Homo sapiens: one gene and its partner. The protein of the gene in region 2 interacts with the protein of the main gene of each other region in a pairwise test. Each region holds a gene or a part of one and is shown on either strand. Other genes may lie near its edges.

Region 1 (3,820 bases), on a different chromosome or scaffold from region 2:
AATAGGATTTAAGATAACTCCAAAGAAGTATACACTATAATAAGTAAATTTAAAATAAAGAAAATGAGACAAACAGAAACTAAAACTGGAAAGATAACATGAAGCCAGGTATGAGGTAAGTGCACAAAAAGAATAGCATTATGTCCTATATTCTAAATTGAAGTATGCAATAAACTGGATTCTAAGTGTTCAAGTAACCAATTCTAACCCAAAGACACAAGTTAAATGTTCAACATTCATTAGGTAAAAAACAACATGTTCAAGAGAAATAGTCCTGATATTAAAATTAAAAAGAATTTTTTCTTTTTTCTTTTTTTTTTTTTTTTGAGATGGAGTCTCGCTCTGTCACCTAGGCTGGAGTGCAGTGGCACGATCTCGGCTCACTGCAACCTCCGCCTCCCGGGTTCAAGTGATTCTCCTGCCTCGGCCTCTTGAGTAGCTGGGACTACAGGTCCCATCACACCCTGCTAATTTTTTGTATTTTTAATAGAGACGGGGTTTCACCATATTGGCCAGGCTGGTCTCCAGTACTGGCCACTCCTGACCTCACGATCTGCCCACCTCGGCCTCCCAAAGTGCTGGGATTACTGGCATGAGCCGCCGCACCCAGCCAAAAAGAATTTTTTCTAATCAACTCATGTTATTTAACAAGATATAATCAACATTTGTAATACTTAAAATAAACACAGAGAATTTCCATAAACCTGTTTCTTAGAAAATCATCAAATAATGCCAAAAGAATTATAGTAAAAGCAATTCTGTAATATCAATTCTACAAAGTTTTACATGATTTTGTCTAAGTACCTATACAATTTTTTTGATGGTCTGGCTTAGTCTAGAAATGTATTTCTCAGTGAGAGGAATAGACGCTCTTGCAACAAATAGAAAAAGAAAGGAGGGGCTGGGCACAGTGGCTCATGCCTGTAATCCCAACACTTTATGAGGCTAAGGTGGGACAACTGCTTGAGGCCAAGAGTTCAAGACCAGTCTGGGCAACATAGTGAGACTCCAACTCTTAAAAAAAAAATTAGCTGGCCATGGTGGCACACACCTGTAGCTGAGGCAGGAGGATCGCTTGAGCCTAGGAGGCTCAAGGCTGCAGTGAGTCATGATTGCACCACTGCACTCCAGCCTGGGTGACAGAGCAAGACTCTGTCTTTAAAAAAGGAAAGGGGAAAAATGTTATGATAAACATACCTAGTAAAGATGTAATAGCCAAAATATTTCCTCCATAGAAGTCTTGCATATCCTTTAGTTGATTTATTCCTACATGTCTCTACTGTTCTTGTTATTAAAAATTGTGCCTCTTAAAAAATACTTTAATTATTTATAGGTTTTTGTATACTGATCATGTACCTAGGGACTTCACTGAAGCTATAAGTTTCTCCTATGCAACCTAATAATTTGTCTTTCTCTCGATTTTAAAACTTCTAGCTATCATTTGTTTTTCTTTGTGACGTCAACGAACAAAGTTTCTTCATACTCTCTATGAACCAGAAATCTCCTCAATTCATAAAATCCAATATACTGCTCTCTGATCACACCTCCTAATTTTCCTGTCTCACTCTTGAACTTCTACTAACTCTAATCTTCAGCCCTATTACTCTATTCTCCTTCCAAATATTAGTCCCATCCAGACTTCACTGCCTTTTCTAATGTACGTCCAATAATGATCACATCAAACATTCTACCACTCTCTTGACAGTCTGGCTCCTTTGTCTTTTTACCACACCTACCATACAAGTGCTCCAGTATGGATTAATTCAGTTTCCCCTCTCCATTCTCACAGCTAAATCCTACATAGTACTTGAGAAGATCACAGATTAGTACCATTACAAATTTCTGCACTCATCCCAAATGCAGCTTCTGCATTGCTCTGCAACCCCATTACATGCTGCTTATTAAACTTTCCCCTTCCATTTCCCTTGGTCGCCATTCTAAACTTTCACCGCTCTCCTCATGCCCTTATTTTACCTTCACTGCTCCCTTTAGCATACGAATCTCATTTGATGGTATCTCTAGATTTGCAATTTATACTTCAGTAACACTAAACTACTTGTAGGCCCCTAAATAGGACTTGATTTATTTGCATATGCTGTTCCCTCTACCCAGGATACACTCCTCCAATTTGTCCAACCAGAAAACCTGTATTTACCCTTCAAATGTCAACTCAAACGCTATTTCTCCTATGAAATCTTCCTCAATCCGCCCCCTTCTCCTTCCTATGTGCCTGCTATACTCTGTGCCTCTGCCTCTAGCTACAAAAATTATTGTTATTATTATATTGCACTGTAATTGCTTGCCTGTTTGTTTCTGCACAAGGCTATATGCTCCTTAAAGGAAAAGGATCTTTTTTTTTTCCAGTTTTCTATCCCAAGTACTAGTTGGCACTGGCTAATTGCATGCTAAAGGAATGAATTCTTCCTACTCAAGTATAATTCCTTGGGCCCAACATTATGTAGAAGAAATGAAATTTAGAGGTAATAAATTTATAAAAACCTTTGCTAAAATGAATGCGGCTGTGTCACTAATAACAGCAATAGTGAATTTCACATTTGCAACCCAATTGAAATGCTGTTATGTAAAACGTATTTCAAGTACATAACAGAAATCTTCTACTATAAAGATAACTAAACAGCTCTACTTCTGATACATCTGAATGGATAATGAACTCAGCGAACTTAAACCATATACTAGACAGCACAACTGACACTATGCTAAATGTCATTCTAACAATTAATCTGTATGATAATCCAGCCCTATATAAACACTGACATTCACAAAAATATTTATCACAAATATCTTAAGAACACAAAAGAAAAACCAACAATGAAACCTGATCCTCACTCCCTGCCAAATGTACACTTTTAAATGGGCAATTATTAAACTGCAAAGAGGCAATGTAATATTAAGTGAAAAGGATGTCCCAATAGATCACATACAACAAGATGCCCTTTTTATTAAGTTAAAACCAACTAAAATGAAAATACATATACTTTGGGAAAATAAAAGGAAGTAAACACTGACTTCAGGATGACAGTGAACTTAATTGGAGGAAGGCCAAAGGATGCATTACTGAAAGGACAATACGGTTAGATTACTACCAAAGCACTAGCTTCTGTTTGGGGTGGTAGATTCCTAGGTTATTATTTTTTTTTTCTTTTTTTCCAGATTCTGCTCTATTCATTCCTATAGATGATTGTTTCTTTTTTTTTTCTTTTTTTTTTAAATTATACTTTAAGTTTTAGGGTACATGTGCACAATGTGCAGGTTAGTTACATATGTATACATGTGACATGCTGGTGCGCTGCACCCACTAACTCGTCATCTAGCATTAGGTATATCTCCCAATGCTATCCCTCCCCCCTCCCCCCACCCCACAACAGTCCCCAGAGTGTGATGTTCCCCTTCCTGTGTCCATGTGTTCTCATTGTTCAATTCCCACCATTCCCAGGTTATTATTACATTGCTTTTTAAGAGATAGAGAGAGAAACGTAGATACACAAAGAGAAGGAGGGATGGAAGCAAGAAGAGAGGAAAGAGGGGGCAGAGAAAGAAAAGCAAAGAAGGAATAATAGATAGAAAGAAAAAAAAACACAGATAAAAGTGGACCAAGCATAGACCAATAATGCAAGTGTGTTATGAACCAAGGATTATTGAACCTGCAATGAGATGACATGAAATGACATGACATGACATGACATGAAATGAAGTGAAAATAAAAATTTCTCACAGCATGTAGGCTAATACCCAACCTATTATCTCTGGATCAAACTGAAGTCACTCATCCAGGTTATGATTTTTTTTCTGCTTCCAATTC
Region 2 (3,644 bases):
GAGGTGCTGCTTGCTTTCGCTGATGGCCTTTGATCTGCGGCTCCACTTACACACACCCTGAATACTATCAGGTGTGCCTAAACCTTCTGCCAAACACGGGATTCGTTGGGACAAAGTTATTGCAGACAAGGGATGTGATATTGTGAAATATATATTTGGTCTTCAACCCCCGCTCCTGGCATACAAGTAAAATCTGTGGAATCTCCAAAGTGAGTTCTTTCTTTATGCTTGTGATTGGCTGATGGCCCAGGTAGCTTCAGGATGGGGCTGGTCACTGGAGAGCCCAAGGCAGGATTAGAGGGGTGGGACTTTCAGCCCAGCCCAACCTTGGAGGTGGGGAGAGGGGCTGATGGCTTAGGTGATCACTATTGGCCAATGATTTAATCAATCACAAAGCTTCCAGGAAAAAGAAACCCTAAAAGGACAGGGCTTAGAAAGTTTCCCGGAAGCTAAACACATCGAGACCAACAGGAAGGTGAACAAGAGCTCATTTGCGGGCAGGGAGGGGATGTACCTCAACTCCATGGGGGCAAAAGCCCCCATGCTCCAGACCCTTCCAGACCTTGCCCTTTGTCTGTCTTCCTCTGACTGTTGGTAGCCTTTAAAATATCCTTTGTAATCAAATAGTAAACATGAGTGTTTCCCTGAGTTCTGTGAACCATTCTAGCAAATTAATTGACCCAAGGAGGGGTTGTGGGAACCCTGATTTAGAGCCAGTCGGTCAGAAGCACAGGCAAAATAACCTGGGGCTTGCAACTAGCATCAGAAATGGGGCAGGGTGGGGGCAGTCTTGGGGACTGAACCCTCAACCTGTGGGATCTCAGGCTATCTCCAGGTAGACAGGGTAGAGACGGAATGAGAATGCACAGCTGGTGTCTGCTGCAGGACCACTTGCTTGCTTTTTGGTGAGGAAAAACCTCCACACATTTGATCATAGCAGTCTTCTGTGTTGATTATTGTTGTGGTGAGAGAGCAAAGGAAAAACTGAGTTTTTCCCTACAAGGGGGAAGTGAAACAGGAAATTCTCCCATGGTCAACATACCTGAATCCTAGAGAGGGTGCATACTTACATATTTTCCTTTAGAGAGGCAAGGTAGGATTCCGTCTCCAAGGGAGACACATCTGAGTCTAATCTGGCCAAGTAGCGGTAAACGTAGGAAAACGTCTTGAAGGGGATGCGAGCGGGCCCGCCCTCCGGATCGTCCGTGAGGATCTCGCACAGGTGCTTCAGCGCAGTGTTCAAGGACTGGGAGCACCACAGCCAGGTGGGGAGAAAAACAGTTACTCCTGGCATCACTCACATTGAAAGCAGGCATCAGCAGAATCAACACTCTAGCATATTTGACAGAAATTCTCCAAAAAGTATGTGCTCCATCTGAACTGAGAACTAGGTGAATGTACAATTGCCATAATGAAAAATGAAAAGGAAAGGTTCGAATGGGGTGCAATTGACCAGGAAAAAATTCTAATTCACAGATCTTATTTTCTATTAAAATAGAAATGACTGTTACAGACAAAAGGAAGCATCAATGTCTTGAAAACCAACTTCCTAAGCTAATGCAGAACTGTGCAGCCCCATCTGGCCCGGAGACACACCCGGGGACGTGCCCAGGGGCTGAATGAACTCTGCCACCAGCCAGAGGTGCTGCCTGCAGAGGGCAGGGCTGGCAGCCAACGGCCTGCATGCCTACAAGGAAGCCCTGGGTGTCTGCCAATGCCTGCCCACCGAGCAGAAGGGAGGGCTCTGTCCGGGCTCTGTCCTGGCTCTCTCCCTGTTCACACAGAAGGCTCTGGGCTCTGTCTCAGCTCCAGAACAGCAACCGGACTTCCTCCCTGAGACCGTTCATCTCCCTCACACTCTTCCAAACTGCTGGGCTCATCCCAGACAGCAGCCCACCCTCTGCTTTCAGCGGGAAAGCCCATCCTCTGAGCAGCCTTCCTGCCTCCACACGGCAGACACTTTTAGCACCTGCCCTCCCAGCCAAGTCCCTGCGGGGGTGGGGGGCAGCTAACAGGCCAAGGTCGTCTTCATGAGACCAGAGGCTGCATGGCGCTGGAACTGCAGGGCCTGGGCACCAGGGCTCCCCAGGGCCAGCCCATGGCCTCCCACCTCCAACTTGCTCAATTCATCCTTGTTGAAAAAACATGAGCTGTTTGTGTGTTTGTTTCAAGAAGGTGGGAGAACCATGTAACATAAGATTACTATCTTTTCAAAAGAGAACACATAGCCCAGGTCTCCTTTTCTCCTTCTGCACCAAGACATCATGACCTGCAGCCTTCAACACCCTGGCCAGGGTAAGCTGTGGGGGCAGGTGTCCTAATTCCGCAGCTGGCCTATGGGACCCTCCCCTCAGTCCCCACCTCGAGTCCCTTCTGTGAAGGCCGTCCTTGCCAGAGTGGCTATCTCATACCTGCCTGGATGGTCACGCTGCCTACTGATGAAGGTGAGCTCACACAGGTGGCTGCTTAAACGTAACCCCCCTCGCCAACACACACACATGGCAACAGCCCTTCATTCCCTCCACGTTTGCCAAGTGCCTGTTACACACCAGGATGTAGCAGTGAACAGACACCTAACGCCTGCTCATGTGGAGATCACAGTCAAGTGGGAGAGCCACAACACCTGGATTCTAGGGTGCTCTGGAAGAGGGCGTGCCTGGAGCAGCAGGCAGGCAGTGCCGGGGTGGAGGATGACATTTTCAATCGGGTGGTCAGGGACGGTCAGAGCAGGGAGCATGTAAGCACAGACCCAGGGGGAAGGAGCCAGTCATGTGGGATGCTGGGAGAATTCCAGGGGCACTTCTGTGTGCTCCAGAAACAGCCAGGAGCTCCAGGTAGCTAGAGCAGGCCATGGAGAGGCAGGGATGCGGGAAATGAGGTCAGCGGGATGGGGTGGGGGCAGATCACGGAGGTCTTTACAGACCCAGGGAGGACTTGGGCTTTGGCTGGGGTCTATGGGAAGGTGTCAAAGGGTTTTAAACAAAGACGGAGCACTGTAGAGTGTTTCTAAGGAGTCCTTCTGCCGATGTGTGAAGAGAAGTGATGAGGGTGGAAGGCAAGAACCCAGTGATGAGGGTGGAAGGCAGGAACCCAGTGATGAGGGTGGAAGGCGGGAACCCGGTGAGGAGGGTGGAAGGCGGGAACCTGGCAAGGAGGCTGCTGGAATAATCCAGCCAGGGGCCTGGGAAGGGCCGGACTCAGCCTCTCCTGAAGGTGGAGTTACCAGAACTCACTGGTGGTTGCATGTGGGCAGAGACAGAACCATGAAAAGTGGTTCCAATGTTTGGTGCCTGAACAGCTGCAAAAGTTCCAGAGAGAAGCTGAGTTTGGGGTGGCTTCCACTGACATGTCTGTCAGGCGCCCAGTGGAACTGGTGACTCAGGTGGCTACTTAGTAGGCCTAGCGCTCACGGAGGAGACTTGGGAGCATGGGCGAGATGGGGTATACAGGCGGGGTGGTGTATACAGGTGGGGTGGTGTACACGGGCGGGATGGTGTACACGGTGGGGGGATGGGGCATACAGGCGGATGGTGTACACGAGGGGATGGTGTACACGGGGGGATGGTGTACACGGGGGGATGGGGCATACGGGGGGATGGTGTACATGGGTGAGATGGTGTACATGGGCGGGATGGTGTACACGG

The links.
Region 1: the proteins of ROPN1L (region 2) and AKAP7 interact in a two-hybrid assay, tested with the Homo sapiens proteins (one large-scale study listed by BioGRID).

Annotation. Positions count from the first base shown.
Region 1 is NC_000006.12:131,169,707-131,173,526, reverse strand, and holds part of AKAP7 (A-kinase anchoring protein 7), read right to left. Parts: intron 1-3,820. UniProt on the Homo sapiens protein: Probably targets cAMP-dependent protein kinase (PKA) to the cellular membrane or cytoskeletal structures.
Region 2 is NC_000005.10:10,458,786-10,462,429, reverse strand, and holds part of ROPN1L (ropporin-1-like protein), read right to left. Parts: intron 1,247-3,644; coding exon 1,071-1,246; intron 1,065-1,070; exon of another isoform or gene 1-1,064. UniProt on the Homo sapiens protein: Functions as part of axonemal radial spoke complexes that play an important part in the motility of sperm and cilia. Important for male fertility.